Regions from separate parts of the Homo sapiens genome. Here all the other regions are linked to region 1. The links come from fine-mapping of genetic effects on gene expression. A gene starts in region 1. Each other region holds a variant in brackets. All regions are shown on one strand. Distances are from middle to middle. Region 1 holds the start of NXN (nucleoredoxin). Region 2 overlaps NXN (nucleoredoxin). Region 3 overlaps NXN (nucleoredoxin). Region 4 overlaps NXN (nucleoredoxin).

Region 1 (8,124 bases):
CCCCTTTGTCATGCAGGAAGTCCTGGGGCCACACCAGAGCCTCACAAAACTGTCCAGAGGAAGCCAGTGGTCTGCACCCTTGGATGTCAGTGCACCCACACTGACCATATGTTTTTGATCAGGCATCCAGCCCAGACAAAGTTGAGCTCTGCGACTTTAACACCAAAAGAGTGCTCACTTCTATGAGGCTGAAGTGGATCCCGGAGACGGACCTCTCCAGTCTTGACGAGTGAGTAACATACTAATCCAAAGGGAAGACCAAATCCCCAAAGTCCAAATTTCACCACCTCCTGACTATCGATCACATTCCTTCTCTCTAGAAATGTGAAAATCATCTACCAACCTACTTATTAAAACAAGTCTAACTGCCTTAACTTCAGGATTATAGATTTGCTGATGAAATTGTTATAAATGCTCTCAAAGTTCTATTACCATCTAATTACAATTTATGCACAGCTATATAATAATGTGTGTTTTGGAAGCTGAAATAATATGTGTTTTGGAAGCCAAAAAAATTAAGCTTCAATTACTTTTGTACCTACCATGACAACAGGCAGAAACAGGACAATTTTGTATAAAGAATGTTTTTTTACATTTTTGTCCTTTTTTTTTTTGGTGTTTTCTCACAGTTCCTGTCAAGGTGAGAGGAACCAGGCAAAATGCAGGCTTAACATATACGGTCATCCCCAGGTTTTTTTTAACTATATAAAGGAGAAATTAATAAAAGAAAAAAAGAAATACCACACAGCATTTTCTTTCCCCACCATAATTTTTCAATTTTCTTTAGAGAAATGCCAGCCAATAACTAATTAGAACCATACCCTTTGTTATCCCAATGGGAAGAAGTATACGCATGGGCTTAAAGAACAAATGTTAATGAGAATTTAAAAAAAATTAGCAATCTGGAACTCTGGTTTCCCTTCAGTGTAAAACAAAATTCCCTTCTCTAGAGTTATTTTTATCATTGGCGAAATGACACGGATAGAGTCCATCCACAAGACGTGTTCACCCATCCAGTGCCCTCAGCTGGGAGAACTCCGGCTCTTCACTTGTTCTGATGGGGAAATTAGCATCATTAGCTCACGGGCTTCTAAGCACCCTAACTTCAAATGAGACAAAAACTCAGTTACAGAAAAGGCATTTGTTCCACATCTCTTTGGTTTCAAGGGGGAAAATAATTCCTTTTTTTTTTTTTTTGAGACAGAGTTTCGCTCTTGTTGCCCAGACTGGGGTGCAATGGTGCGATCTCGGCTCACCGCAACCTCCGCCTCCCAGGTTCAAGCGATTCTCCTGCCTCAGCCTCCCTAGTAGCTGGGACTAGAGGCATGCGCCACCAGGTCTGGCTAATTTTGTATTTTTAGTAGAGACGGGGTTTCTCCATGTTGGTCAGGCTGGTCTGGAACTCCCGACCTCAGGTGATCCGCCCACCTCAGCCTTCCAAAGTGCTGGGATAACAGGCATGAGCCACCGCACCCGGCAATAATTCCTTTTAAAATCAGCACGTAGCTTTTGTAATTTCCAAGAGTATGTGTTCCATAAGAAGGACAGCTGGAGTCTTTTTACCTGGTATATATCCCCGAGAAAGATCTTGAGTGGTTTGTTCACGACCAAGGAAAGAAACTACCTCCTTGAAAACTGGACTGGTTTTAGAGAATAAAGTATAGGATGTGAGTCAGAAAAACTCTGGGCCAAAAAATAAAATGTTTAAGATGCTAACGCACCAGGGTTTGGGCACGTCCAGCACTCTCAACGGTATTTTCAAATGAGAGTCTGCCCTGTGTCATCCAGGTTCTCATCATGGAGGAATCAGCAGGTCCAGGCTAGGGCCGCAGAATACTTTTTGTCATGCAAAGAGCCTGTCCAGGGTATAGAGAGCCAGCCATGGCCCATGTCCTATCAAATATTCTCCTTTTTCGGAAAAAGCTCTAAGCATTTGCAAAACATCTGTTTGCTCCATATTTTTACTATCCAAAAAATGTATTTCCTCTTCAGTAAAAAACACAACAATAGGCTGTTAAGCCTGTAACATTTTACCATAATTCTATGTTTTCAAAAGCTAGAAATCATTTGTATTGCCGGATAAGGACATTATTTTAAGTAGACTTTAGTCTACAACAGAAACTTGCCGTAACAATGAAAATGTTTTTTGGCAAATCCCTTTCTGAACATTATTTCTCCACGAACGTATCACAAAAACCACCACCAAGGAAAACAAAGGATTCTCGTATTTTGAATCAAAAAGTACTGGCCATGCATATTCATACTATATCAAGCATGTCAATCAAAATGGGCAAAATAACCTAAAAAGCAGTAAAAATGCCAACTCTTGCCTCTGAGTGGTTAGTGAACCTATGTTTTCCCAATATGAAATTTACAAACTGCATCGGATCAACTGTATTTCATACTTTAAATCTCGAATCTCTACCTCCCACTGCTTCGGGATGGATGATTTACTCAAGACATTTGGGGTCACAGTGTAAGCCTTTTGCTCCCAGTAAATCTAAATCATGCTTCTCAACAAGATTCTGCACATATAAAAGGAACACGTGGCACGCCTCGCCATGCTCCCCAGAGGAAACTAAACGCCCCCAGAATAGCCCTTCTGTCCACTCCAGAAACAGGCTTTCCTCAAAAAGGGAAAGGGGCTGGATTCACACGTTGCATCATATACACTCACGAAGCAACAGCGCTCCAAAACTTTTTCTGACTCCATTCATTACAAAATGTCCTGGATGTGCTTTATTATCACAGAGACAGACATCCTCACCCAAGGGACACACTCAGAAACCCAAACTCAACTCGGCAGCAAACTGGGAGACACGAGAAGTTGACAGCAAAGTATCCATTTCCCCAAATCCTCCTTCTTCCAGTCAATGTGCATCGATGGGGTCAGCTCAGCCCTTAACTCGAAGACCCCGGGACCACAGGGGCCACCACGCAGCTGAGCTCTGCACAGCCCGGGCTGTTCCCGCGCCCGGGAGGCGTCTGGGGAGGAGGCTGGACGGCCAGACAATGCAAAGCTCCCCGGTGGCCGCGAACTCAGCCTGGGGCGGGGGAGGCGGGGGCGGGAGACGGAGCCGTGAGCGCCCTTCTCGGCCACAGCCACGGCCACGGTCACCGGCCGCCTCTCCTGACCTCGGCCTCGGCCCCCAGGTCCCCGGTCCCCGGGGAAGGGGCTCCGGGAAGGCAGGTTTCTCCCGGAAAGAAAGGAAACGCGCTGGTTTGGGCGCCACGGGCGGGGGGCGTGCGCCCTCCCCTCCCCTCCCCTCCCCACTGTGGGAATCCGCGGGGGTCGGCGGCGGAGGCAGGAAGGGCCTGGCGCCTCTGCTCGCGGGTGAAGGGGTCGCGGAACCGGGATCCCCGAGCGCAGCCGCCCCCACCCGAGGCTCCCAGCGTGTGCGGACGGAGGGGCTCGAGCCGGGATCCCGGGGGCCGAGGGGGGTCCAACTTTCCAGGGCGGGCGCAGCGCAGCACTCGAACCAAAGAGGGGTCCTGGGATGAGGGTGCGGGCACAGCGCGGAAGGGGGGGGGGCAGAGGCGGGGACGGCGGGGTGGGGGGCGGGGAGAGGACAGTGGGTCGGGGGGCGGGGGACTGGGGGCAGGGGTCGGGGGGTGGAGGGCGGGCAGGGGGACAACGGGGTTGGCGGAGGGCAGGGGTAACGGGCGTGGGGGGCGGGCAGGGGTAACGGGCGTGGGGGGCGGGCAGGGGCCGGCGAGGCCCGCGCCGCTCACCTTCCTGTGCTTCTCCTTGTAGGGCAGCGCCAGCCACGGCATGTCCCGCACGAAGTCCTGCCACTGCCGCTGGTCCTGGTCCGAGGACACGAAGACGATCTCCAGGCGCCGCCGCGGCTCGGGCTCCGCCGCCGCCCCGGCCCCCGCTCCCGGCCCCGGCCCGGCCGCCGCGTCCCCCCGCAGGCGCCCGTAGAAGGCGGCCAGGCTGGCGCTGAGCTGCGCGCAGGGGGCGCTGAGGCTGCAGCCGAAGTAGAGACCCAGCAGCGAGATGCCGCGGGCGCCCAGCGAGTGCACGTCCACCTCCTCGCCGCCGCCCGTCACCAGCTTCTCGCCGAGCAGCTCCTCCAGGAAGCCCGACATCCTGGCCCACCGCAGGGCGGGCAGGCGGCTGCGACCCCGCTCCACGGTCCGCGCGGCGGGAGGAGGCGGCGGCGTCGGCGGCAGGCGCTGGGGAGAGCAGAGCCCGGCCCAGTAGGGCCGCCCACGCCACGCCCCCTCCGCCTGCCCGCGCCACGCCCCTTCCCCCGCCCTGCCACGCCCCCTCCGCGGCCCGCGCCACGCCCCTTCGGCTGCCCTCGCCACGCCCCTCCGCCCGCCCTCGCCACGCCCCCTCCGCCCTCGCCACGCCCCGTTTGCGGCCGGCGGTGGCCAGAGCTCTCCGCCCAGGCGGGGTCCGCAGCTGCCGGCCGCGGTGCGCGGGGTGACTGCTTGGGCGAGAAGCCGGACCCGAAACGCCGCACTCTCCCTGGAAAGCCCACGGCCGAAGTGAAGAAAGGAGAAGGGCCCGCTGAGCCGGCGCTTTCCCGGGCTGCAGCCCGGCCCGCATTTTCTCTCCTCCCCAGTTCTAAATTCCCTCCAGACCTCCAGGGATCCCGCCCCCTCCCCGCGGAGCTCTTCACCCTCTTCCTGTTCCTCCCCGGCCTTTCCCTCCTCCTCTCCCTGCACGAAGCCTGACCCTTAGGCCGCTCCGGGCCCCACTGACCCTGAGATGCTTATAGGACCCGCCGTCCTCACTGCATCAGGCCGGGCCTGGCTGGACACTGACTCCTCTGTGTGTTCCAAGCTGTTCTAAGGGGGCCGAGGACGCCCTCGCAGCTTCTGGTGGGGTCTGGTTAGGGTGCCAGGTCTCAGTGTGGGATTTCCGTCCAGGGGTCGCCGGGGCCTCTCCCCCCAGCGAATCTGTCTTCCAGCCCCACAAATGGATGCAAAGGACGCCGCGGGGCCTCCAGACCAATGCTGGCCGCGCTCCTGAATCCGCTCCATCCTCATGTCAAGTCTATGGATAGTTGAGAACATTTCTAGAGATTTTTTTTTTCCTACCAGCTGGCAGGATGCTCCCCAATGCTTAGGGAGAAGCTGGATTAAACAGGTGGTCTGGGCCGGGCGCGGTGGCTCACGCCTGAATTCCCAGCACTTTGGGAGGCCGAGGTGGGTGGATCACAAGGTCAGGAGTTCGAGACCAGCCTGGCCAATATGGTGACACCCCCCCCCCGCCTCTACTAAAAATACAAAAATTAGCGGGGTGTAGTGGCAGGCACCTGTAATCCGAGCAACTCAGGAGGCTGAGGTAGGAGAATGGCGTGAAGCCGGGAGACGGAGGCTGCAGTGAGCCGAGATCGCTCCATTGCACTCCAGCCTGGGCAACAGAGCAAGACTCCGTCTCAAAAAAAACAAAAAAACAGGTGGTCCGTGGCGAGTACTCTGGCCACGCAGCGCCTCCCCCCAACCCAACCCACTGGTGCACGAAGCAGGTGCAGATCCGGGCCCAGCCACAGTAACAGGCCGCCGGTGTGGATCAGCTACTGACGACTCAGCGAAAGCAAAAAAATAAAAGCTGAAAACCCGCCCCTCTCAGAGCTTCCACCGCCGCTTCGGAGGATATTTCCTGTGCATCCATCGCCACCTAATGGAAAGAGTGAAAAATGAGGCCGACCAAACTCCATTTGTGAAAAGACACTGCCGGGACACCAGGCACAATGCTTTTATTTTACAGCAGCTTTCCACATACACAAATGATAGGACGCTTTGCGGGAGCTAATTTAAACCTCAGAATAGAACTTCAAGCTTTTGGCACAAAACGTAAGTGTTCACATCGAAGGTTCTCCGTTTTTCTAGGGTAGAATAAGGAATGGTGCAGGGTTCCAGCTTGGTGAAATGTTACCATATAAAACAATTGGGAGAGGTGGAGATGGGAGCGGAAAGTGGACTGGCGTCTCTACAAGTTATATCCACTTCCTTAGTCACCTGCTGGTATTGCTAATGACACAGGTAAGATCTTAGATGGAGGACCGCCTTCGAACACCCTAGAATCCTACTGCAAAGTCGAATTCCACCTTAATTCTCAGGAGACTTTCATGCTGAAAGTCTGTGCCACTGTAGGGACAATATTATAAAACACACACAGAAAGCATCACTTTTTAGTGAAAACTTTATTTATTTATTTATTTATTTATTTATTTATTTTGAGACAGTGTGGGCGGCAGGCCACCCAGGCGCTGAGGCAAGAGACCGAGGACACAAGCCGTTCCAGTGTAATAAAATATAAAATAAGAATAGTTATACCAGATATAGATCTTAGATAGGCTTATATATGAATATCATTAATCATTAGTTTGTAGCAATTACTCTTTATTCCCATATTATAATGATCCTCGCTCTATAATCATAATCTAGGGAAAACCAGGCCATACAGAGATAGGAGCTGAGGGGACATAGTGAGGAGTGACCAGAAGACAAGAGTGCGAGCCTTCTGTTATGCCCAGACAGGGCTACCAGAGGGCTCCTTGGTCTAGCGGTAACACCAGCGTCTGGGAAGACACCCGTGGCCAGGCGGACTGTGGTGTAGCGGTAGCGTAAGTGTCAAGGAAAAACACCCGCTACTTAGCAGACCGGGAAAGGGAGTCTCCCTTTCCCCGGGGGGAGTTTAGAGAAGACTCTACTCCTCCACCTCTTGTGGAGGGCCTGACTGCAGGTTCGCCCACAATTATCCGGAGGCCTAACTGTCTCCCTGTGATGCTGTGCTTCAGTGGTCACGCTCCTAGTCCGCCTTCATGTTCCATTCTGTACACCTGGCTCTGCCTTCTAGATAGCAGTAGCAAATTAGTGAAAGTACTAAAAGTCTCTAATAATGGTGGAAGCTGTTTCTCTCTTTGTCTCCTCTCTCTCTCTGCCTCGGCTGCCAGGCAGGGAAGGGCCCCCTGTCCAGTGGACACGTGACCCACATGACCTTACCTATCATTGGAGATGGCTCACTCTCCTTATCCTGCCCCTTTGTCTTGTATCCAATAAATATCAGTGCAGCCTGGCATTTGGGACCACTACCGGTCTCCGCGACTTGGTGGTAGTGGTTCCCCAGGCCCAGCTGCCTTTTATCTCTTTGTCTTGTGTCTTTATTTCTACACTCTCTCGTCTCCGCACACGGGGAGAGACCCACTGACCCTGTGGGGCTGGTCCCTACAGACAGAGTCTCACTCTGTTGCCCAGGCTGGAGTGCAGTGGTGCGATCTCAGCTCCTGCAACCTCTGCCTACCAGATTCAAGTGATTCTCCTGCCTCAGCCTCTCGAGTAGCTGGGATTACAGGCATGCACCACCTCCCAAATAGCTGGGATTACTGGCATGCACTAATTTTTTTGTTTTGTTTTGTTTGTTTGTTTTTTGCAACAGAGTCTTGCTCTGTTGCCCAAGCTGGAGTGCAGTGGCGCGATCTCGGCTCACTGCAAGCTCCGCCCCTCCAGGTTTAAGCAATTCTCTGCCTCAGCCTCTGGAGTAGCTGGGATTACAGGCGTCCGCCACCAAGCCTGGCCAATTTTTTGTATCTTTAATAGAGACGGGGTTTTCACCATACTGGCCAGGCTGGTCTCAAACTCCTGGCCTCAAGTGATCCACCCGCCTCAGCCTCCCAAAGTTCTGGGATTACAGGCATGAGCCACCACCCGGCCTTGGTGAAAACATTTAAAGCTACTCATATCATATATATTAAGTTACTAGGCCAGGTGAGGTGGCTCACACCTGTAATCCCAATACTTTGGGAGGCCGAGGCGGGCAGATCATGAGATCAGGAGATTGAGACCATCCTGGCTAACACAGTGAAACCCCGTCTCTACTAAAAATACAAAAAATTAGCCGGGCGAGGTGGCGGGCACCTGTAGTCCCAGCTACTCGGGAGGCTGAGGCAGGAGAATGGCATGAACCCGGGAGGCGGAGTTTGCAGTGAGCCGAGATCGCACCACTGCACTCCAGCCTGGGCGACAGGGAGAGACTCCATCTCAAAAAAAAAAAAAAAGTATATATATACACACACACACACACACACACACACACACACATAGTTACTAGACATCTTTTGAAATCCTGTAAATGGGTTACAATGTTTTATCATCTCATCCAAATCT
Region 2 (8,124 bases), 63 kb before region 1:
GCGGGAGAGACCCCGTCTACATCCTTGCCAACACTGTATGTTATCAAATGTTCCTTTTGCCAGTTTAATAATCACATATTTCAAAAGTTGTACTTCTTTAATTGCAAACAGAACCAGGCATCTTTTCATGTTTATGTGTCTTTCTCTGTTCAAATTCTTTACCCAAATTGATTTTAAAAGCTCTTTATGCATTAAGAAAAAAAACAGGCCAGTGGGCAGTGGCTCACACCTGTAATCCCAGCATGAAGATTACATTTGGGAGGCCGATGCGGGCGGATCACCTGAGGTCAGGAGTTCGAGACCAGCCTGGCCAACATGGTGAAACCCCGTCTCTACTAAAAATACGAAAAATTAGCCGGGCGTGGTGGTACGTGTCTGTAATCCCAGCTACTCGGGAGGCTGAGGCAGGAGAATCGCTTGAACCCGGGAGATGGAGCTTGCAGTGAGCCAAGATTGCACCACCGCACTCCAGCCTGGGCGACAGAGTGAAACAAGGAAAGGAGAAAAGAGAAAGGAAAGGACGGAAAAAAGAAAGAAAGAAAAGAAAAATAGCACTTTTCTCTGTCATATACGTTGGAAATATCTTTTCTCACCCTAGGGTTTATCATTTGATCTGGTTTCTGGTATTTTGGACCATATAGAAGTTTTATATTACAGTCATCTCTTTTATAGTCACCAATAAAATCTAGATTAATTCTCTGAACATAAATAGAGGCTAACTTCTTATTAGGAGAAGTAAAATTGAACAGAAAATTCATGAGTCACCAAAAATCCTTCCCGATTTTGTAAAATCTGGAAAAGCCAACAGTTGATCACCAAACCACTGCCAGCTCCCAAATGACAGAACTCATCCACAGAGCACCCCCACAGCCCAGGATGGCCCATTTTCTCCTGGAGTCTGAAAAGTCCATTCGCTTGTCAGTTTTCCAGAGTCTGGGAACCCTTTTTGCCTCTAGCGCTGGCTTAGCTGTTTCAACACAGAAGTGATCACAGATGAAGATGTCGGCCCCTGCCCACAGCAGAGACTCCTCAACACGACAGACAGAGAGCAACAGGCTGAGAAAGGAGAGTCGGTCAGTTTCCCAGAGACATCGTGGCACAACAGAGACCAAAGGAAAAGAGGATAAGGAGGCAGGTTCTCCACCTACCCCCACGTCCCCAGGCAATGCAGAGACCGGGAACCGATAAAGAGGCAGGTTCTCCACCTACCCCCACGTCCCCAGGCAATGCAGAGACCGGGACCCTTCTCAGATGACTTTTCTCTCCTGGCACCTGCTCTTTCTTATCCTTGTAGTAAAAGAGCAGACAAAAATGAAGCAGAAAAAAAATGTGTAAACAATTGCCCTTTCCATCTACACTGGCATAAACTCACTTACTTAAGTGCAAGGACATTCATTATAACGGCGTGTCCTCCCAAACTCGCGGAAGATTTTTATTTTATTATTTATTTTTATTTTTATTTTTGAGACAGAGTCTCGCCCTGTCGCCCAGACTGGAGTGCAGTGGCACAATCTTGGCCTACTGCAACCTCCGGCTCCTGAGTTCAAGTGATTCTCCAGCCTCAGCCTCCCGGGTAGCTGGGACTCCAGACACCCACCACCACACCCAGCTAATTTTTGTATTTTTAATAGAGACAGGGTTTCGCCACATTGGCCAGGCTGCTCTCGAACTCCCAACCTCAAGTGACTCACCTACCTCAGCCTCCCAAAGTGCTGGGATTACAGGCGCCCGCCACCACGCCCAGCTAATTTTTGTATTTTTAATAGAGATGGGGTTTCGCCACGTTGGCCAGGCTGGTCTCGCACTCCTGACCTCAGGTGACTCGCCTACCTCAGCCTCCCAAAGTGCTGGGATTACAGGCACCCGCCACCACGCCCAGCTAATTTTTGTATTTTTAGTAGAAATAGGGTTTTACCGTGTTGGCCAGGCTGGTCTCAAACTCCTGACCTCAGGTGATCCACCCGCCACAGCCTCCCAAAGTGCTGGTATTACAGGCACAAGCTACCACGCCCGGCCAGAAGGAAGATTCTTTTTAAGGCGAGAAGTATGCAATGAGACAGTAGAGGCAAGGTCAAAGGCAAACACCGAGGTCTGTAATTGGTAGCGCAAGCAAGGTTCCTAGAGGAGACAGGAATATACACAATTCAACAAACATGTATGAAATGCTACCTTGTGCTGAGCATCGAACCAGGCGGAGACAAAGATGAGGAGCAGAGACTCGCTTCTGACCTTCAAAGAGTCCACAGTCCATTGAGTGAGGTCATTAACTCAGCAAGCGAGTTAACAGGGAGCGTACCGTGATGTGGGAAGCAAGACTGTTGGGTGTAGAGGAGGCGGAGCTGGATGTGGGGAACCAGGGCTTCCCCTGGAGGAGCTGATGAGTGCGTGGAACCAACAGCACAGGCAAATAAAGCAAGCAAGTGAGATGAGTTTTCCTAAAATATTAAAGGGGGTGAAATCGCAGACACTTGTACTGGAAAAATTTCAGAGTTGATTTTTTTTTTTAGACAAAGTCTCGCTCGCCAGGCTGGAGTGCAGTGGTGCGATCTCGGCTCACTCCAACTTCTGCCTCCCAGGTTCAAGAGATTCTCCTGCCTCAGCCTCCCAAATAGCTGGGAATACAGGCACCCGCCACAACGCCAAGCTCATTTTTTGTATTTTTAGTAGAAATGGGGTTTCACCATATTGGCCAGGCTGGCCTCGAACTTCTGACCTCGTGATAGGTCCACCTCAGCCTCCAAAAGTGCTGGGATTACAGGCGTGAGCCACTGCACCCGGCCAGTTGAGGATTTTATAGTTGAGAATAAGTGGGATTATGATTAGCATGACCTCTAGGAATTCTTTCTCTCTTTCTTTCTGAGATAGAGTCTCACTCTGTCGCCCAGGCTGGAGTCATCTCGGCTCACTGCAACCTCCACCTCCTGGGCTCAGACAATCCTCCTGCCTCCGCCTCCCAAGTAGCTGGGACTACGGGAGTGTGCCATCACACCCAGCTAATTTTTGTATTTTTTTGTAAAGACTGGGTTTTGCCATGTTGCCCAGACTGGTCTCAAACTCTTGGGCTCAGGCAATCAACCTGCCTCAGCCTCCCAAAGTGCTGGGATTACAGATATAAGACACCACACCTGGACTCTAGGAAATTATTTCTAAGAAAGGAGTAAAAGTGAGAATGAATGAGTACATAGTGTAACGCTTCCGAGCTTTGGTGCAGGAGGAAAGTAAATAACAAGGATACCCCAGGGCTGGAAACTTGGCAATAAACCAAGAAGGCAGAGACCAGTTAGTGCAACACTAAAATGCCTGACCACTTATGGGGCCAGAGCTGGGGCTTCCAGGTGAAACTTCCCCTAAAATGGGCGGCCACTTATGGTGTCAGAGCCGAAACTTCCCCTAAAATGGGCGGCCACTTATGGTGTCAGAGCTGGAACTTCCAGCTGCTCCCCCTCTCCCAGTTCTTTTGTCCTTGTCCCTAGAGTTTTGGTCTCCAAGCAATCGGTTCTGTGTTTTTGTTTGTAGGCTCAATTTTAAACCACATTTTGTAAAGGCACTTCTCAAAAGGCAAAGATAAAAACACTGAAGCTCTTAAGAGCGCCTGTCTGGCTGCCAAGCCATTGTTCTACTCAAATGTCGAATGAAAAGGGAGAAACAGAATGATGATTGTATTTGAATTGCTTCCAAGGAAAAGTAACCTCCAGCAAAACTCTAGGCCCACTTTGCTAGAAATCCTGGCACGTCGGCAACAGAAATGGAGGCAGAAAATTGCATCTTTCAGAAAGCAGAGTATCAAACAGGAAAAGCCACAAGGAGTGAGGTGCTGTGAGGTTCCCGTGGTGCAGGATCCATTTTATCCTTTCTACTTCTTCCTGCTGAAAATGAGATTATTTAAAACAATTTAAAAGACAATTTTCCCTGCAAGGGGCCTTTTGGAAATGAGTCAAAGTCAAATCCCTTGTTTTACGTAAAATTAACGTATGACATTTCAAAGTTACCAAACTAAAAAAAAGGAAAATAAATATAAACACATTCCAAAACTTAAAAATGAAGGAGATTTCAGACAGTCCCTCCTGGTAAAATGTGAAATTGCACCCCAGCTGCAG[T/C]AGCTACTGTAAATATCCAAGGAATCAGTTTTAAGTGTTTGGGGATCCCAGGGATCCCTGCAAAGCACTCAGGATTTTAACATTAAGCTCACAAATTACAGCAGCTGGCCGGGCACGGTGGCTCACGCCCGTAATCCCAGCACTTTTGGAGGCCGAGGCAGGTGGATCACCTGAGGTCTCCACTAAAAATACAAAAAACTAGCCAGGTGTGGTGGCGGACATCTGTAATCCCAGCCACTTCGGGGGCTGAGGCAGGAGAATCACTTGAACCCGGGAGGTGGAGGTTGCAGTGAGCTGAGGTTATGCCATTGCACTCCGGCCTGGGCAACAGAGAGAAACTTCATCTCTAAAAAAAAATTACAGCAACCAACAGGCCTCTAGGTTAGTTACCACCCTAACCTCTTCGTTGTAAATTTTCAAACCACCTTGAAGGTGGGTATTTTTGGTGGGTCTTTATCTTCATTCATTAATCACATTATCAGACATTCCCTGTGTGTCCTGTTCTGTTATACATGCTGAAGCTACAAATCAAACATCCGCTTTGCCTCCAACAAGATTCCCTGTTCCTAAGTGAACCAAGGAATGAGGTGTTCCACGCCTGAGCTCACATCTTTTTTTTTTTTTTCTGTAGCCCAGGCTGGAGTGCAATGGCGCGACCTCGGCTCGCCGTGGCCTCCGCCTCGCGGGTTCAAGCGATTCTCCTGCCTCAGCCTCCCGAGCAGCTGGGACTACAGGCGCCCGCCACCATGCCCAGCTAATTTTTTGTATTTTTAGTAGAGACGGGGTTTCACCATGTTGGCCAGGCTGGTCTCAATCTCTTGACCTCGTGATCCGCCTGCCTTGGCCTCTGAAAGTGCTGGGCCTCTGAAAGAACAGGCGGGAGCCGCCGCTCACATCTTTACTCATGAACCTAAACTCACAGAGCAGCCCCACACTGTCGTCTGTGGAAACCACACCAGCTCCTCCTCTTCCTTCTGGACCTGCTGTCCCACCCTACGCCCATTTTTTATCTCCACCCACTCTTTGAACTTAGCACTGGTGTCTACAGGCTCGATTCCCAGCTCTCCCACAAGGACGTGGCTCAGACGCACGTCACCATCTCAACCCAATGTAGGCCACCCGCTGCAGGCGAGCTTCCCTACCCAATCCGACCTCCTAGACGGACACCCCAGGTTCCAGCCCTACAAGGGGCGCGTACTGGCACAACAGGCGGGCGTGGCTCTCGCTCCCCAGGAAGGCCTCGCAGAGGTGGGGACAAGGGCGGATGGGAAAGGGGATAAGCGACAGGAGAGGGGGGACTCCCGTTCCAAACAAAGGGGACTGCGTACTGGTGAAGAAGAATGTGGTCTGTATTCAGTTTTGTTGACAAGAACCCCTAATGGATAATAATAAAATGTTTACTGAGCTCGTACTTTATGGAAGACACATGGCTCACGGCAGGGCCCGGCACATCACAAAAACTCACTCCGTATTTGCAGCATAAAGGAAATCTCAGTTTCAGTTTTAAAAGTTGTGTGTCTAAACCAGAAAATAACTCATAACATGATCCTACTAAGAAGATGGGCCAAAAACAGACAAAAGAAACACGAGAACACTCAATATCACCTCCCCCAAAACAACACAGCATTTTCCTCCTGTAATCAAACAATCACAAACCAGGCTGTGCTGGGCCTGGCCGTTGTGCCAGAAACAGCCCCAGAACCCTGGGCCCAAAGGGGTCTGGTCTTGATTAAGATTATTTTCCTTTGTAACGTTCGGTTTGGAGGAAAAGGCGGGAGGGTCGGAAGGAAATGGGAGGAGCGCACGATCCATCAGCGAGTTTCATCGCAGCGTTTCATCTCCTTCGTGAACTGGGCTCAGGGAGGCCGTGACTCCCATTTCCATTTGGCTCCCGAGTCAATCACTCACTTTCATTCCAGCTACTTTTTGTCTTAATTTCTTGACTTAAAAAGGGTTTGGTTGAGGCCGGGCGCAGTGGCTCATGCCTGTAATCCCAGAAAGTGAGGCCGAGGCGGGCGGATCACCTGAGGCCAACAGTTCAAGAGCAGTCTGGCCAACACGATGAAAACCTGTCTCTACTAAAAATACAAAAATTATCCAGGCGCGGTGGTGGGCGGCTGTAATCCCAGCTACTCAGGAGGCTGAGGCACGAGAATCGCTTGCACCCGGGAGGCAGAGGCTGCAGTGAGCTGAGATCGCGCCACCGCACTCCAGCCTGGGAGACAGAGACTCAGTCTCAAAAAAAAAAAAAGGCCGGGGGTGGGGGGGCGGGTGTTTGTTGAATCCTTGGTGAATTTAAGGACTCAGAAAACAAAGTAAGTTAAACTACGTTTCCACAGCCTCCTTCCTCATTAAAAATGTCTCTGCAGCCAGGCAAGGTGGCGTGCGCCTGTAGTCCCAGCTACTCGGGAGGCTGAGGCGGGAGGATCACTTGAGGCCAGGAGTTTGAGGCTGCAGTGAGCTATGATTGCACCACTGCACTCCAGCCTGGGCAACAGAGTAAGACCCTATTGCTTTAAAAAAAAAAAATGTTTCAGCCAGGCTCGGTGGCTCACACCTGTAATCCCAGCACTTTGGGAGGCTGAGGGTGGATCACGAGGTCAGGAGATCGAGACCATCCTGGCTAACATGGTGAAAGCCCGTCTCTACTACAAATACAAAAATCAGCCGGGCGTCATGGCGGGCACCTGTAGTCCCAGTTCCTTGGGAGGCTGAAGCAGGAGAATAGCTTGAACTAGGGAGGCAGAGGTTGCAGTGAGCCGAGATTGTGCCACTGTACTCCAGCCTGGTGACAGAGTGAGACTCTGTCTCAAAACAAAACAAAAAAAAGGTTCTGGAATGATTATTCCAATTAAACAGCTTTTATTACAATACTCTGTCAATGCAGGGCAATCATTCCTTAAGATGCTAGAAAACGTGTTATTGTAACACGAGGAAAAAGCCCTGTAATCTCAGCACAACCAGAAATTAAAGTGGCAGTTTTGGGAGGACGCAGTCAAACGGCTTTCTACAGCACCTCCTCGTATCGTGGGTTACAGAACCTACGTCGTCCTCGGAATCCCCGCATTCGTCCCACGCGGCCCTCAGACACGGGCTCTGGTTCAAGGTGGGAGACAGAGACAACACCAATCAGCCCTTACCAGGCAGTGCGTGGCTCCAGAACAACAACTGAAAATAATATTGGAACGCAGTCCAGAAAATACAACTAGGGGCAGAGCGGTCCGGCACAAAACACCAGGAAACGCTCTCCCTTCCATCATTCAATCTTGGCGGACCACACTGGTATGCGACCTCATCTAGCTACATAGCTACACCTCCCTCTTGTCACCTTGCAGACTGGTATTCACTAACCCCCAGGCCATGGCGGAAAATGTACCTTCCATCTCTCTCTGCCTCAGCCCCCACCGGCACCCTTGGTGCCTTCATCACCCATCCAGAGCAACTACCCACTTCCACGGCCTCCTCCATGTGAGGACCTCCGCCTCCAACTCTCTTCGAGCCACCACGCGGTGCAAATGTTTGTATTTTTGGTGGAGACAAGGTTTCGCCATGTTGCCCAGGCTGGTCTTGAACTCCTGGGCTCAAGCGATCAGCCCATCTCAGCCGCCCAAAGTGCTGGGATGACAAGCACGAGCCATCACGCCCAGTCTACACCCCGAAATCCAACATTACAAACTTATCAATGCTGCCTCCTGTCATCTCCCCCCGCCCCTGGCTCCCGCTTTGACCTGGAGGAATCTGGCAACGTCAACATCAAGTGATTGTTCAAATTCAGCCAAGGGGGCCGATGAGGTGCCCATGTGGCTCTCCTCCCAGCCCCGAGCGCCTGGGGATACCTAGGCCCTCCTGTCATGCCCCAAGGCCAATGTAGCCTTGGGGATGCCGAGCCTGCCTGATCCCAATTCCTCCAGCGTTCTCCTCCCAGGGTTCCGCTCCCTCCCCAAGTGACCAGCCCTCACCAGCTCACTCCAGCTCTGCAGCGTTCTCCCAGGCTCTCAACCCTCGACGCTCATCCAGGTTCATTCGC
Region 3 (8,124 bases), 83 kb before region 1:
TGGACTCAGACCTCATGTTCTGAATTTAAGACGGTGACAGTTACAGGAATGTGTGTAGGGATTATGGCTGGAATGCTGCCTCTCACTTACAGCTGACCCTCTTCCCAGGACTCTCCAAATCCACCTGGTGCCTCTCTTCTGCCCCCGCACAGCCAGGCCACCCCTCATCCAAACACCAGGTTTCCAGCACTGGAGCCTCACAAGCTCATCCCCACCCACAAAACACTCACAAACGCACCTGGCAAGTCAGTGTCTGCATAGCAGGTCTCGCAGTCTCAGCACTGCTGACACTTTGCTGGGAAGGGGCGGGGCGGGGTGGGGTGTGTGGGGGGGTGCTGTTCCGCACATTGTAGAATGTTCATCGCTGTCCCAGGAAATGCCAGTAATGCCCGCTTAGTGACAATCGAAAATGGTTCCAGAAGCCCAGGAGACTTTGAGACCAGTGAAACAATTCTGTATGATCCCAACCTGGTGGATGCATGTCATTCATTATGCATTCGTCAGAACCAACAGTGTCCAACACAAACAATAAACCCTAAGGTAAGCTGTGAACTTCAGATAGTAACAATGTACCCATACCAGCCCCTCAGTTGTAACAAATGTAGCGCACCAATGCAAGATGGTAATGACAGCAGGAATACCTGGAGGGCAAGGGAGGGGTACCTGTGAACTCTGTACTTTCTGCTCAGTTTTTCTGAAAACCTAAAACTGTTCTATGAAACAAAGTCTATCAATTAAAAATTTAAAGTCTTCAGACGTTTGCCTATGTCCCTAAAGGGCAAAGCTGTTCCACTTGGCAGATGCGGATGGGAGAACACGCCTACGCAGGCCAAGTCTCCAGCAGGGCAATGCTCTCGTTACTTCCACGAGTCAATCAGTGCAGTTGTATCAGGCCACGTTCCTGGACAGAGACTGGAAAAGGTGAGCTTTCTGAGTGCGCATGGGTTGTGGACACTCCTCTGGGGGATAATCTTTTTAGGGGAGAAAGCATGGAGCCCAGTCTCAGGAAACCCTAGGCAGAGGCTGGAGACAGAGGCCTAATCCTCCGGTCCCAGCTTAAAAGACAGCACCTTGGTTGCTATATTCACTCTGGTGAGAATGCCCTCCTTGGATTTCCCTTTTTCAAAAATTATCTCCATCGCTCAGTAGCGTGACATAAGAAATGGAAAGAAGCCTTGGCCTTCAAAAAAGGCCAGAGGAAGCATCTCAACGCCTGGAAGCCAGAGGAAGCATCTCAACCTCCGGAAGCCAGAGGAAGCATCTCAACTCCCTGGAAGCCAGAGGAAGCATCTCAATGCCCTGGAAGCCAGAGGAAGCATCTCAACCCCTGGAAGCCAGAGGAAGCATCTCAACTCCCTGGAAGCCAGAGGAAGCATCTCAATGCCCTGGAAGCCAGAGGAAGCATCTCAACCCCTGGAAGCCAGAGGAAGCATCTCAACTCCCTGGAAGCCAGAGGAAGCATCTCAACTCCCTGGAAGCCAGAGGAAGCATCTCAACTCCCTGGAAGCCAGAGGAAGCATCTCAACTCCCTGGAAGCCAGAGGAAGCATCTCAACCCCCGGAAGCCAGAGGAAGCATCTCAACTCCCTGGAAGCCAGAGGAAGCAACTCAACTCCCTGGAAGCCAGAGGAAGCATCTCAACCCCCGGAAGCCAGAGGAAGCATCTCAACTCCCTGGAAGCCAGAGGAAGCATCTCAACTCCCTGGAAGCCAGAGGAAGCATCTCAACTCCCTGGAAGCCAGAGGAAGCATCTCAACTCCCTGGAAGCCAGAGGAAGCATCTCAACTCCCTGGAAGCCAGAGGAAGCATCTCAAACGCCCTGGAAGCCAGAGGAAGCATCTCAAACGCCCTGGAAGCCAGAGGAAGCATCTCAAACGCCCTGGAAGCCAGAGGAAGCATCTCAAACGCCCTGGAAGCCAGAGGAAGCATCTCAAACGCCCTGGAAGCCAGAGGAAGCATCTCAAACGCCCTGGAAGCCAGAGGAAGCATCTCAAACGCCCTGGAAGCCAGAGGAAGCATCTCAAACGCCCTGGAAGCCAGAGGAAGCATCTCAAACGCCCTGGAAGCCAGAGGAAGCATCTCAAACGCCCTGGAAGCCAGAGGAAGCATCTCAAACGCCCTGGAAGCCAGAGGAAGCATCTCAAACGCCCTGGAAGCCAGAGGAAGCATCTCAAACGCCCTGGAAGCCAGAGGAAGCATCTCAAACGCCCTGGAAGCCAGAGGAAGCATCTCAAACGCCCTGGAAGCCAGAGGAAGCATCTCAAACGCCCTGGAAGCCAGAGGAAGCATCTCAAACGCCCTGGAAGCCAGAGGAAGCATCTCAGCACCCTGGAAGCCAGAGGAAGCATCTCAATGCCCAGAACCTGGGGGTCCTGCCGGGGGCAGCCTCTGCAGCTCTGCCACTGGTGTCCGCAGGGACGGGCGGAGACATGACGGAGGCGCCCCAAGAAGACGGTCCCCAGTTTTGCTAAACTGGCTGCTAAAATACCCCCTTCCATCTGAAAACATAATTGAGATGTGACTGCCTCAACTTTAAATCCACTTGGCTTCAGGCATTTGCATGGCTGAAACGTGGGCACACCCAGGTCCCCGCTGGCCGCCTTCATGATTCCCTGAAATCCTGGCTCTCCCTGATTGCCTTTCTCTCTCATCCTTTCCTTTCACCCTTTCCTTTTTTTTTTTTTTTTTTTTTTTTTTTTTTTTTTTTTTTTGAGACTAAATCTCACTCCGTCGCCCAGGCTGGAGTGCAGTGGCACCATCTCGGCTCACTGCAACCTCCGCCTCCTGGGTTCAAGTGATTCTCCTGCCTCAGCCTCCCGAGTAGCTGGGATTACAGGCACCCACCACCACGCCCAGCTAATTTTTGTATTTTTAGTAGAGACGGGGCTTCACCATGTTGGCCAGGCTAGTCTTGAACTCCTGACCTCAGGTGATCTGCCTGCCCCAGCCTCCCAAAGTGCTGGGATGACAGGCATGAGCCACCGCGCCTGGCCCACCCCTTCCCTTCATAGTTCATCTTCTCTAATGGAGAGAGGAAGAAAAGAGGGTACCCAAAGAAGCAAAAAAATGAGAGAAAATGAGAGATGATCAAACATAAACCACCATGGGGACTGCTGCCATGACACAGCTGGGTATGGGGAGAAACAGAATTCAGCAACCTTCTAAAGCTGCTACAATAATACTTTCTGGTTTAAAAAGACCCAATGTGGCCGGGCGCAGTGGCTCACGCCTCTAATCCCAGCACTTTGGGAGGTCGAGGTGGGCGGATCACAGGGTCAGGAGATCAAGACCATCCTGGCTAACACGGTGAAACCCCGTCTCTACTTAAAATACAAAAAAAAAAAATTAGCCAGGCGTGGTGGTGGGCACCTGTAGTCCCAGCTACTCGGGAGGCTGAGGCAGGGGAATGGCGTGAACCTGAGAGGCGGAGCTTGCAGTGAGCCGAGATCGCACCACTGCACTCCAGCCTGGGTTTTGTTTGTCTCAAAAACAAACAAACAAACAAAAAAACTAATTTTTCCCAACATCATTAATTCTTCTCAACAATGTAGTATCTTCCAAGGTGAATCTTTTAGTAAAATGGGCTTTACAAACTGTTGATGGGCTGGGGGCAGTGGCTCACACCTGTAATCCCAATGCTTTGGGAGGCTGAGGTGGGGAGGATTGTTTGAGGCCAAGAGTTCAAGACCAGCCTGGGCAACAGAGCAAGACTATCTCTACAAAAAAATTAAATAGGCTGGGCATGGTGGCTTATGCCTGTAATCCCAGTACTTTGGGAGGCTGAGGCAGGCGGATCACCTGAGGTCGGGAGTTCGAGACCAGCCTGACAACATGGAGAAACCCTGTCCCTACTAAAAATACAAAAAATTAGCCGGGCGTGGTGGCGCATGCCTGTAATCCCAGCTACTCGGGAGGCTGAGGCAGGAGAATCACTTGAACCCAGGAGGCAGAGGTTGCAGTGAGCCGAGATCGAGCCATTGCACTCCAGCCTGGGCAACAAAAGCAAAACTCCATCTCAAAAAAAAAAAAAAAATTAAGTAAGCAAGGCATGGTGGCGTGTGCCTGCAGTCCTAACTACTCGGGAGGCTGAGGTGGATTATTTGAGCACAGGAGTTTGAGATTACAGTGAGCTGTGATCGTGCCACGGCACTCCAGCCTGGGCAACACAGCAGACCCTGTGTCTAAAACACAAGAATAAAAAACAAGGAAGTAGAACTATTCCCGTACCTCTCCCTGTTGCCTCGCACACCGTATAAACTTACCAGACGTTAACTATCGTCTTCGTGTTTCAACTTCGCTTTAAAGTAAAATATAAACATTTATTAAACTATCCAGTTCTCCCACTTCTCATCTTAGTCACCCCGGCCCA[A/G]GGAAGTTTTTGTGGAATTGACAGATGACATCTGTTTTTACAGAGAGTTGTTTCTGGTAATAGAACCTTCTCCTCGACTTCAAAGCTTCCCTAAATTCTCTACAATAGACACTTGAACCTCTGCAGATCTCGAAGATGCTAAAATGGACCACGCGGTCCTGACCACCCGCCCCCGGCCCCTCAACAAACTCACGCTATTTCTCAGTTCCTGCATATCACACACAATATTCTTCTTTTTTTCCCAAGCCAGTCCCCTCCTAGGCCTGTTGCAGTGACGCCTCTCCTAGGAAAGTCCCCGCGGCAGATACACGGACTCCGTAATGGAAACTCCGGCGTGCCTAACAACAGCGTCACTGTCACACACGCGTGAGCTTTGACAGCCAGGGACTGGTAACCCACGGCCACCGCGCCCAAGAAAATTATTTCCCATGGGAGAAAGAAAACTACGTTCAGCTCCTGGCAGGTCCCAGGCAAGTCCGAGCCAGGCTTGCAGGGAGGCGAATGCTCTGTCCTGGGAAAGGGAGGCAGAGGTTAAGGGCTGTTCCCACCCTCCAGTGACCCAGATGGGAAAGGCAGCTGCGTGGACATCAAAATGACAGCAGAGACGTGTGGCTTTTCCCCAGCGTCACTGAAACAAAGCCAGCATGGGCTGCCCCACACTGTTTACAGGACAATCAATTAGCAAGATGGATCTCATGATTAAGAGAAACTCAATTTCTTCTTGAAAGCACGTTCTAGGGTGGGGTGCATCCTTACCACATCAGTCAGATGTCAAAAGGCAGCACGTAAATTGAATAAGGGAAGGAAAATGCCGGGCGGCCTCATTCACGTCCGGCATGTTCCGCTATTATTGAAAGGAAATTGAGAAATTAGACAGTACTGCCTATTAGCTTCACAATGCCCCGTCCTAGGGCAATCCGCAAAGATTTCCTCAGTGTGCTGTCAACTCTGTGTTAAATGAATTCTCGGTCCAGCATTTGTTTTTCTTTTATTCTTTTTTCGAGATGGAGTCTCACTCTGTCACCCAGGCTGGAGTGCAGTGGCACGATCTCGGCTCACTGCAACCTCGGCCTCCAAGGTTCAAGCAGTTCTCCTGCCTCAGCCTCCCGAGTAGCTGGGACTACAGGTGCCCGCCACCACGCATGGCTACTTTTTCTATTTTTTTCTTAGTAGAGATGGGGTTTCACCGTGTTGGCCAGGCTGGTCTCGAACTCCTCACCTCAGGTGATCCGCCCACCTCGGCCTCCCGAAGTGCTGGGATGACAGGTGTGAACCCCTGCTGCTGGCCAGTTAAGATTATTTTAAGGATAACTTGATATTGTGCACTTCAAAGTTCTCCATGGATTGAGCTGGTCAAGCAATGCTTAATTTTCAAGTAACTACCCACCTACTGCTGTGCCTTTCTTCCCCACAGCCATTCATCTTTGTTCCTGTCTTCATGGGGCTCAGGGTTTCTCAACCTCAGCACTTGGCGGCTGGATGGTTTCTCCCTGGTCGAGGCTGGTCTGTGCATTCCAGGATGTCCAGCAGCACTCCTGGTCTTTACCATCCCCCCAAGACTGGACAAACAACCCTGGGGGAAAAACTGCCCCAGTTGAGAACCACTTTCCTAGTTCCATGCACTCTGCTCTCCTGGGACACACCCCTCTTCAGCTCCCCTGCCTGGAACACCTTTGATCCCATCTTTACCTACTAATTCCCACTCTGCCATCTGGAGCTCGTCCGGACGCCACCTCCTCTGAGAAACTACTCTGAGGCCAGGTGTAATGTCTCACCCCTGTAATCCCAGCACCCTGCCTGGAACAGCTTTGATCTTCTTTACCTACTAACTCTTACTCTGCCGTCAGGAACTCGTCCGGACGCCATCTCCTCTGAGAAACTACTCTGAGGCCAGGCGCAATGTCTCACACCTGTAATCCCAGCACTTTGGGAGGCTAAGGTGGGAGGACCACTTCAGGCCAGGAGTTCAAGACCAGGCTGGGTAAGATGGAGAAATTTCATCTTTACAAAAAATACAAAAATTAGCCAGGACGGTAGTGCACACCTATAGTTCCAAGCTGAGGTGGGAGGACTGCTTGAAACTGGGAGGTCGAGGCTGCAGTGAGCCATGAGGGCACCACTGCACTCCAGCCTGGGTGACAAAACAGACTGTCTCAAAAAAACAAAAACAAAACAAAAAAACTACTCTGAAAGTCATTTCTTCCTATCCCCTCCCTGCAAAGAAGGAAGGACAGGGCTGGGATTCTGCCTCTGTGCATGCTTTTTTTTTTTTTCTTTTTTTTTGAGACAGAGCCTTGCTCTGTCGCCCAGGCTGGAGTGCAGTGGCACGATCTTGGCTCACTGCAACCTCTGCCTCCCGGGTTCAAGTGATTCTCCTGCCTCAGCCTCCCGAGTAGCTGGGATTACAGGCACCCACCACCATGCACAGCTAATTTTTGTATTTTTAGTAGAGACGCGGTTTCACCATGTTGGTCAGGCTCGTCTTGAACTCCTGACCTCAGGTGATCCACCCGCCTCGGCCTCCCAAAGTGCTGGGATTACAGGCGTGAGCCACCGCACCCCGGCCTGTGCATGCTTTTCTTACAGCACCTTTTATATTAATAGTACTATAACTGTCTCCTTACTTTGCTTAATACTCCATCTATCCATCCATTAATTCAACAAATATTGACGTGCTGGGTACAAAAAATAAGACCCTGAGAGAGACACCTGGATGCCCGCTCTCCTGAGCTCATATTCTCGTGAGGGAGGACGATCAATAAACAACAATAAACAAGAAAATGGCAGGTATTACTGAGAGCTGCAAAGAAGATACAGCTTGCTTCTCTTTCCCGCAAGGAGATTTAGCTCCTTGAGGGCAAAGACTGATTCACTCATGATTATATCGTCAGGAATTAGCGCTGAGCCTTAAAAAACAAAACCACGGATTCCGCACTTTCCTCCTTTCTCTCCTCTCTGTTACGGAGATTTAGGTACAGGGTTTCTTTTCCTGGGAGACAGTAAAAAAAGCTTCCTGCAGGGAGGGTCTTGCCCAGTTGATAAATTTTACAAGCTGGGGGCGGTGGTGCACGCCTGTAGTCCCAGCTACTAGGGAGGATGAGGCAGGAGGATAGCCTGAGCCCAGGAGTTCGAGGCTGCAGTGAGCTATGATCATGTCGTTGCACCCCAGCCTGAGTGACAGAGTGAGACCCTGTCTCTAAATTAATTATTTTCACAAAGGAAATCAAAGGGCTTTTGTTAAAGTAAATGATATCCTCAAGCTATAGAGTTTAACACTAAAACTTTTCTGAGGGCCGGGCGTGGTGGCTCATGCCCGTAATCCCAGCACGTTGGGAGGCCGAGGCAGGCGGATCTCCTGAGGTCAGGAGTTTGAGACCAACCTGACCAACATGGAGAAACCCTGTCTCTACTAAAAATACAAAATTAGCGGGGTGTGGTGGCGCATGCCTGAAATCCCAGCTACTTAGGAGGCTGAGGCAGGAGAATCGCTTGAACCCGGGGGGGCAGAGGTTGTGGTGAGCCAAGATTGCGCCATTGCACTCCAGCCTGGGCAACAAGACCGAAACTCCGTCTCAAAACAAAAAAAGGAAAAAAAAACACAAACTTTCTGAAGATATAGCCAAAAAGCTCATGAAGAGAGACAGCATTTTATAGATGGAGAAATGGAGGCCTGGAAATGGTGAGCTGCCCAAGGCCACAATGCCAGGAACCCAGAGCTGACCATCTGGCTTCAGAGCCCACTCTCTTCCCCACCAG
Region 4 (8,124 bases), 100 kb before region 1:
ATCAGAGAGAATTCAAACCTGGGTCTCTTATCTCAAAAGTCTTAATTTGCCTCACTACACACTTAAGAGCAGAAGATCGAATCAGACTAGTGTGAAATGAAATAGGGTTTTTTTGTTGTTTTGGTTGTGGTGTTTTTGTTTTTGTTTTAAGATTCTGCTCTGTTGCCCAGGCTGGAGTACGGTGGTGCAATCATAGCTCACTGCAGCCTCCAACTCCCTGGGCTCAAGTGATCCTACCACCTCAGCCTCCCAAGTAGCTGGGATTACAGGCACATGTGACCATGCCTGGTAAATTAAAAAAAAAAAAAAAATTGTAGAACCCGGTCTCATTTTGTTGCTCAGGGGGTCTCAAGCTCCTGGCTTCAAGCTATCCTCCTGCCCCGGCCTCCCAAAGTGCTGGGAGTACAGGTGTTGGCTACTTTCAAAAGCTTTTTAGGCCGGGCACAGTGGCTCATGCCTGTGATCCCAGCACTTTGGGAAGCCAAGGTGGGCGGGTCATGAGGTCAGGAGATCAAGACCATCCTGGCTATCAGGGTGAAACCCCGTCTCTACTAAAAATATAAAATTAGCCGGGCGTGGTGGCGTGCACCTGTAATCCCAGGTACCTGGGAGGCTGAGGCTGGAGAATCGCTTGAACCTGGGGGGGTGGAGGTTGCAGCGTGCCAAGACCGTGCCACTGCACTCCAGCCTGGGCGACACAGTAAGAATCCATCAGAAAAGAAAGAAAAAAAAGAAAAGAAAGAAAAGAAAAGAGAAAGAAAGAAAGAAAGGAGAAGAGAAGAGAAGAAAAGAAAAGAAAAGAAAGGAAATGCAGGTGCCCAGAAAAAAAGGCAGGCTCCCAAAGTGAATACTAAGACACTCAATCTCACATGTTGTCAAAAAAGCTATTGAAATTTCAGGTGACAGAGGGACTTAAGAACAACGGTGCTCAAGGAAGTCAACACAGGCTACGACGTACAGGACTCCCAATCCGGCTCATGACCACATCCCCTATTGTGGTCATTTAGAACACGCTAGGCGTCCTTTGCTCTAAGCGTGTTTCATGTACGTCTCCCCATCAATGAAGAAAGCACCTGGAGAGTAGGAAGTAAGAGTTATGTACTCTGAGATTCTCTCTTAAGCCCAGGAATCAGTCTCACTGGGCGGGGAGCTCAACAGCGCTGTTAGTGTCGTTCGCTGATAATTACTTTCACACTAGAATACCATCTTCATTCCTCATTTATACGGGAAACTCCTTGTGGTTCCCTTTGGGGCACCAGCTCCCAGCACATTCTATGTCATCAAAATTAACTCTTGGCCGGGCGCGGGGGCTCACGCCTGGAATCCCAGCACTTTGGGAGGCTGCGGGGGCGGGGGGATCACCTGAGGTCGGGAGTTCGAGACCAGCCTGGCCAACACAGTGAAACCCCGTCTCTACTAAAAACACAAAAAATTAGCCGGGTATGGTGGCGGTCGCCTGTAATCCGAGCTACTCAGGAAGCTGAGGCAGGAGAATGGTGTGAACTCGGGAGGCTGAGGCAGGAGAATCACTTAAACCCAGTAGGCAGAGGTTGCAGTGAGCTGAGATTGCACCACTGCACTCCAGCCTGGGTGACAGAGTGAAACTCTGTCTCGAAAACAAACAAAAAAACTAATTCTTAATATATTAAACAAACGTACTAAACAACTATGGGAACAGCGACGGTGTTGTTTTTTTTTGGAGACGGAGTCTCACTCTGTCGCCCAGGCTGGAGTGCAGTGGCATGATCTCGGCTCACTGCAAGCTCCGCCTCCCAGGTTGATGCCATTCTCCTGCCTCAGCCTCCTGGTAGCTGAGACTACTGGCGCCCGCCACCAAGCCCGGCTAATTTTTTGTATTTTTAGTACAGGCGGGGTTTCACCATGTTGGCCAGGATGGTCTCGATCTCCTGACCTCGTGATCCACCTGCCTCAGCCTCCCAAAGTGCTGGAATTACAGGCGTGAGCCACCGCGCCCGGCCGCGACTGTGTTTTTCAAACAGCTGCATTTACCAGCCACTACTGGATTCCTTCTACGTGTGAAGCCCTGTGCTAAAGGCTGGGAACAGAAAGATAATTGATACACGAGCCTTTCTTTCCTTTATGGAAGGCCCAGCCCCATACGGAAGACGGACGCGTACATAAACTATTAGGATACAGGAAAAGCGCGATACTACTGGCACATAGAGGAAATCGGGGAAGATGCTTAGAACAATGTCTGGGGCACACGCTCAGTGCTTTACAAAATACTCGTTATTTTTACCATCTAACCTTGTGAGTTAGAGCGACTGAAGAGGAAAGGCCGTAGCGTCTGAGCTGCTCTGTGAAGAATGAACCGGTTTTCACCAGGCAGGCCAGGAGTGGGATAGGGCGAGGCATCCAAGAAACAGCAAGAGGCAGGCAGAGCTCAGCACACGTTTTTCCAGACTGTGAACCATGAAGCTCTGAAGGCTGCTAGGAGGGCCACGGGAGCTGTGGGAGAGGGTGAGGCTGGAGCCCTGTGGGCTAACAGACAGGGCTCTAATTCGTGACATCGTGGCAACAAACTATTAGAAATGAGGCTAGACCTGGAAGCCCTGGGGGCACAGTCTGGAGGGGAGACAGACGAGAGCTAAGTAGAATGCAGGCAATGACGCCGTAACAGAGATCTGCACAGCGACCATTGCACAGCGTGGGGGCAGGCTTCTGAGAGGAGGTAACATGCTGAAAAGACAACGTGTACAGCTGACATTAGTACACAACCTCATCGGAGAGAGAAGAAGCGGAGGGAATCCCAGGAGCAGGGGCCATCATGCTCAAAGGTTCCAAGGTACGGCAATGGGCGATGTGTCTGGGGACCCTGGGGGTCGACCAGTGTGGCTGAGCAGAGTGTGCAAAGGTGAGGATGCTAGAAGGCCAGGTGCGGTTTCGGGGCGGGGCAGGGGTTGCCCTTGAAGGTGGGGTTTGGGGGTGGGGGAGGGGGTGCCCTTGAAGGAGGGGTTTGCGGGCGGGGGTGGGGGGACCTTGAAGGTGGGGTGTGGGGGCAGGGGAGGGGGTGCCCTTGAAGGTGGGGTTTGGGGGCAGGGGAGGGGGTGCCCTTGAAGTCCACGCCAGGGAGTTTGGGTTGGATCCACCCGTAATGAGGGCTGGCCCATAGGGCAGTGACGTGAACAACTGGTACTGTAGCCAGGTTGTTCTGGGAGCTGTGTAGACAGGGTGAGACTGGAAGTTGGTGGACTCATTAAGGGACTAGTGAAACAATAGTGCCCCAACCTGATTGAACCCAGTGAATGGGGGGAAATGAGAATGTCAAGGCCTGTAGCTTGGGTAGATGCGTCAGTGAGACCCTATTCATAACCAGAGCCTAAAAAAACACGCAGAGCCAGTTAAAAGCTCTAATATGTGTTTAAAGAACAAATTAATGAAAGAATGCGTAGACAGGCCAGGTGCGGTGGCTCACGCCTGTAATCCCAGCACTTTGGGAGGCTGAGGTGGGTGGATCACCTGAGGTCAGGAGTTCAAGACCAGCCTGACCAACATGGCGAAACCCTCTCTCTACTAAAAATACAAAAACTAGCCAGGTGTGGTGGCAGGCGCCTCTAATCCCAGCTACTCGGGAGGCTGAGGCAGGAGAATCACTTGAACCCGGGAGGCAGAGGTTTTAGTGAGCCAAGATCGCGCCATTGCACTCCAGCCTGGGCAACAAGAGAGAAACTCTGTCTCAAAAAAAACAACAAGTAGACAGAGAGGGAAGGAGAAGGAGAGAACAAAGCGGAAGAAAAACTAGTGAAGAGCAGGGAAAGGAATCTGGGTTTTTTTTGTTTTGGTTTGGTTTTTGGTTTTTGGTTTTTTGTTTTTTTTTTTTGAGACAGAGTCTCACTCTGTCACCCAGTCTGGAGTGCAGTGGCACGATCTCAGCTCACTATAGCCTCCGTCTCCCAGGTTCAAGCGATTCTCCCGCCTCAGCCTCCCAAGTAGCTCAGATTACAGGCGCCCACCATGCCAGGCTAATTTTTGAATTTTTAGTAGAGACGGGGTCTCACCAAGTTGGCCAGGCTGGTCTTGAACTCCTGACCTCAAATGATCCACCCGCCTCGGCCTCCCAAAGTGCTGGGACTACAGGCATGAGCCACCGCGCCCGGCCACGAGTCTGGTTTTAAACCCGTGGAGCTAAAGGTTTCTGGCAAGCAGGGAAAGGACACGACTCATTGACTGA[G/T]AAGCAGGAGGCGTCCAACACAAAGGCCTCTTGGGAACCCGCTGGGGTTTGGCGGGCGTCACCTTTCTGCATCTTGGGAGGAGAGCTGGTGGGAGGAGCTTTTCTGCAGGTGTCTCTTTCTAGCCTCCGGCAGGGGGCGGCAACAGAAGACGGTTCAGAAGAAAGAATGTGGCCAAGTATGTGTATTTCAAGCCAAAGGATTCTAGAAACTTCTCTCACAGGTACGGAATCCAACCACAGTGCCCACTGTGGTGAAGCCACTGCGCTGGTCCGAGAAGAAAGTGACAAACAAAATGACATGGAGCCCAATTCATCCTGAGAGCAGAACCTCGGAGCCATGTGGTTAAGATGGAAATTCCACTTTTAGTCCAAGCAAATCTTCTGATGTATCAAGTTTGAGGGTGAGGTTTCATTAAAGGAATTTAAAATAAAAAAGTGAGATCACAGCAAATTTTTTAAAATGATTGTTTCAGTGAAGGGAAAAAAGGTCTTTATCCTTATTCAGGGCGTAATTCCTGATCCTGGTCCCCGGAGACAACACCCACCCTTGGGCGAATCATTCCTGGGGACGGAGGAATGAGGGAGGCGTCTCTTTATTTCCGGGGGCGGAGGAGTGAGGGAGGCGTCTCTTTATTTCCTTGTATATAAAATACAAGAACTAAATACCTTGGATTAACAACCAGGGCTGGGGTTTGTGATAAGGCTGTGATTAGGACCACATAAAAGGAGAAAACGTCTTAATAAGAACTTCTTTGTGGCCTGTTAGAGCCTTTCTTAGGAAACTAATAAGTTACACTTTTCCTGGAGAGAAAATCTTGGAAATGACCCATTTCCCCAACAGGACATCATTTCCGGTCATTCACATGTGGTCAAGTTAAAAAAGATCGTTTGAACCTAGCTCAGCCAGGCCAGGGAGAAAATTAAAAATAAGTGTTTATTTTTCTGATTAAAGCCAAACAATGAGACTCAAAATAGGCCACACAAAACCCACAGAATCTTCCAAGTTCGCCTGAGCTAATGCATCCAAGGACGTCCACTCACAGGGGAAGAAGCAGAGGGGCTGGCCTTCTCCTAAGGGGGCAGGGCTGGAGATCTGTCAAATTCCTTATCCATATCTAGGAGCAGAGCTTCCTTTTGGCCAAAAGAGTAAGCTGACTGCGAAGGACAGATACTTCCAAGCAGACACTAAGTAATGCAGTTGGTTTGATAACAGGACAGATGAAAATGGAAGGCCTCCTCCGAAAATCCCACAGCCTGGGCCAGGGCTCCAAGGGGCTGACTGGTTCCTGTGGTTCAAATCTCTGCAAACGTCTCCTTCCCTCCTGCCCCATCTACGGCAGGTAGCTGAGCCGTGGCCCAGGCTCTGGGAGTGCACACTCTCAACAAGCAGATATGAACAGACACGTCCAGAAAGTAGATAGGTGGACAGCCAGTAAGAATATGCAAAGGTGTCATCAAGGAAATGCAAATTAAAATGATTTCACACTGACTAGAATAGCAAAAGTAAAACACACCCACAGTATCAAACCCGGGTGAGGACGTGGAGCAAGTGCGAGTCTCACACTCCGCTGCCGGGGACATAAATGGTGCAAACACTTTGTTGTTGTTTGAGACAGGATCTCACTGTTACCCAGGCTGGAGTGCAGTGGTGCGATCTCAGCTCGCCGCAGCACCCCAGACTCAAGTGATCCTCCAGCTTCCCGGGTAGCTGGGATTAGAAACGCGTACCACCACACTCGAAAATTTTCCATTGAGACGGGGTTTCGCCATGTTGCTCAGGCTAGTCTCAAACTCCCGGGCTCAAGAAATCTGCCTGCCTTGGCCTCCCAAAGTGCTGGGATTACAGGCGTGAGCCGCCATGCCTGGTCAGTACAACCACTTTGAAGAACCGTTTGGTCCATCTTATGAAGGTAAATGTTCATTTACCTGATAATCGACTCAGAATTCTACCGCTCAGGATTCCTACTCATCAGTATTTACCCAAGATAATTTTTTTAAGTCCATAAAAATGTTTATAACAGCCTTCCCCACCCCAAACTGACAACAACTCACATACATCCATCATTGGAAGAATGGATACACTGTGACAAGATGCTCGTCCAATGGGACACTTCTCAGCAATAAGAAGGAACAAACTGATGTATACAAAAACAAGGATAAACCTCACAATCATGCTGAGCAAATGAAGCCCGACACAAAATAACACTGACTGTACGATTCCATTTCCATGACGGTCTACAGGCAAAACTAAATTACAGTGACAGAAAACCAAAGCGACGGATGGGAGGGGGAGTCACCAGAGAGGCTCAGCAGGGGACTGTGCAGGGAGATGGAAATGTTCTTGGTCTTGTTTGGATAATTGTTCATATCGGTATAACAGCTGTTCAAACACACTGAGCTGGGTCCTTAAGAACCATGAATTTTATTGTGTTAAATTAAACCTAAAAAAAGAACTCATACCAACAAGAAGGAGAAAAAAATAATTTGTCTTCATCTCATCTAGAGCCAGGTAACTGAGAATTCCAGCGTGGGCACAGGGTGCTGCCTCCTGAGCACGGCCACCTTCCCACAAGTGACCACCTCCCCTCCCTCCCTCCCTGCCTTTCCCTGCCATGGTTCCCTGTCTCCATGAATGGAACCAACTACCCTCCACCCAGTGTCCCCAAACCAGAAACCTGGCAGTCCTTCCCCATGCTTCTCTCTTCCTCATTTCTGCTCAGTCACTTCCTAGACAGCTCCTGAATGAGGCGGAGCCCTCCCCCGTCTCTGCCCCAACTGCCTCAATTGCAGGGGTTTCTTTTGTTTGTTTTGTTTTGTTTTGTTTTGAGATGGAGTCTCGCTCTGTCACCCAGGCTGGAGTGCAGTGGCGCAATCTCGGCTCACTGCAAGCTCCGCCTCCCGGGTTCACGCCATTCTCCTGCCTCAGCCTCCCATGTAACTGGGACTTCAGGCGCCCACCACCATGCCCGGCTAATTTTTTGTATTTTTAGTAGAGACAGGGTTTCACCGTGTTAGCCAGGATGGTCTCGATCTCCTGACCTCGTGATCTGCCTGCCTTGGCCTCCCAAAGTGCTGGGATTATAGGCGTTAGCCACCGCACCCGGCCTCTTTGTTTTGTTTTTGAGACGTTGTCTTGCTCTGTCGCCCAGGCTGGAGTGCAGTGGCGCGATCTTGGCTTGCTGCAACCTCTGTCTCCCGGGTTCAAGCGATTCTCTTGCCTCAGCTTCCCTAGTAGCTGGAATTACAGGCGCCCGCCACCACGCCCAGCTAATTTTAGTAGACACAGGGTTTCACCATGTTGGCCAGGCTGGTCTGGAACTCCTGACCTCAGGTGATCTGTTCATCTTGGCCTCCTAAAGCATTGGGATTACAGGCGTGAGCCCCCGTCTCCACTAAAAGATAAAAATAAAACTTGGCTGTGTGTAGTGGCGTGCACCTCGAGTCCTAGCTACTTGGGGAAGGCTACACCTGGCCAACTTCCTATTTTTAAATGGAAAGAAAAAAACACACACCAGGGCCTTGTTTCCTATCTCTCCTGCCCATTCCTTCTCTCTCCACAACTCAGACAGCGACGGTGTCAATCAGGCCAGTAAGGGAAAGGCTGGGGGAAGACGATGCTGACTGTCTCTTACTGAATCTGTTTCTGAGACATGGAAACACCCTGTTCACAGAGGCCTCTCTTCCTCCCACCCCTGCCCCCCGCCCAGAACTCCCAGCAGAAGCTGCTCACTGGCTGTTGTCAAAGTAGTCTTTGTTCTTGGAGTTGAACCAGCACAGGCCTCAAATTTCCATCCACAGCTCCAAACCCCGCCTACATCACCTCCATGACCTCAGGCTAAGGAAAGAAAGAAGCTGGCCAAAAACATGCCAGGCTAAGAAGCCAAAGCTCCTCCCAAGAGAGATGACTCTGGAGGGGACCCTCTGGTCTCCTC

What was found. PIP is the estimated chance that this variant, and not a neighbour inherited with it, causes the effect.
Region 2: its variant is fine-mapped to the expression of NXN in whole blood (INTERVAL, PIP above 0.99).
Region 3: its variant is fine-mapped to the expression of NXN in atrial appendage (GTEx, PIP above 0.99).
Region 4: its variant is fine-mapped to the expression of NXN in pancreas (GTEx, PIP 0.96).

The regions. Positions count from the first base shown.
Region 1 is chr17:975,587-983,710 of GRCh38, forward strand. NXN (nucleoredoxin) reads right to left here and starts at 4,190. Exons shown (of 8, transcript NM_022463.5): 1 at 3,733-4,190. The coding sequence starts at 4,092. RefSeq lists enhancers at 3,103-4,038, 5,463-5,757.
Region 2 is chr17:912,454-920,577 of GRCh38, forward strand. The region is part of intron 1 of NXN (nucleoredoxin); the gene reads right to left. Among named protein-coding and RNA genes, the nearest start is that of NXN, 63 kb to the right of the region's middle. RefSeq lists an enhancer at 6,076-6,593. The variant T/C (reference allele first, on the strand shown) is at 4,098.
Region 3 is chr17:892,325-900,448 of GRCh38, forward strand. All of the region lies in intron 1 of NXN (nucleoredoxin), which reads right to left. Among named protein-coding and RNA genes, the nearest start is that of NXN, 83 kb to the right of the region's middle. RefSeq lists enhancers at 4,446-5,645, 5,555-6,196, 6,197-6,837, 7,341-7,842. The variant A/G (reference allele first, on the strand shown) is at 4,369.
Region 4 is chr17:875,467-883,590 of GRCh38, forward strand. All of the region lies in intron 1 of NXN (nucleoredoxin), which reads right to left. Among named protein-coding and RNA genes, the nearest start is that of MRM3, 97 kb to the left of the region's middle. The variant G/T (reference allele first, on the strand shown) is at 4,193.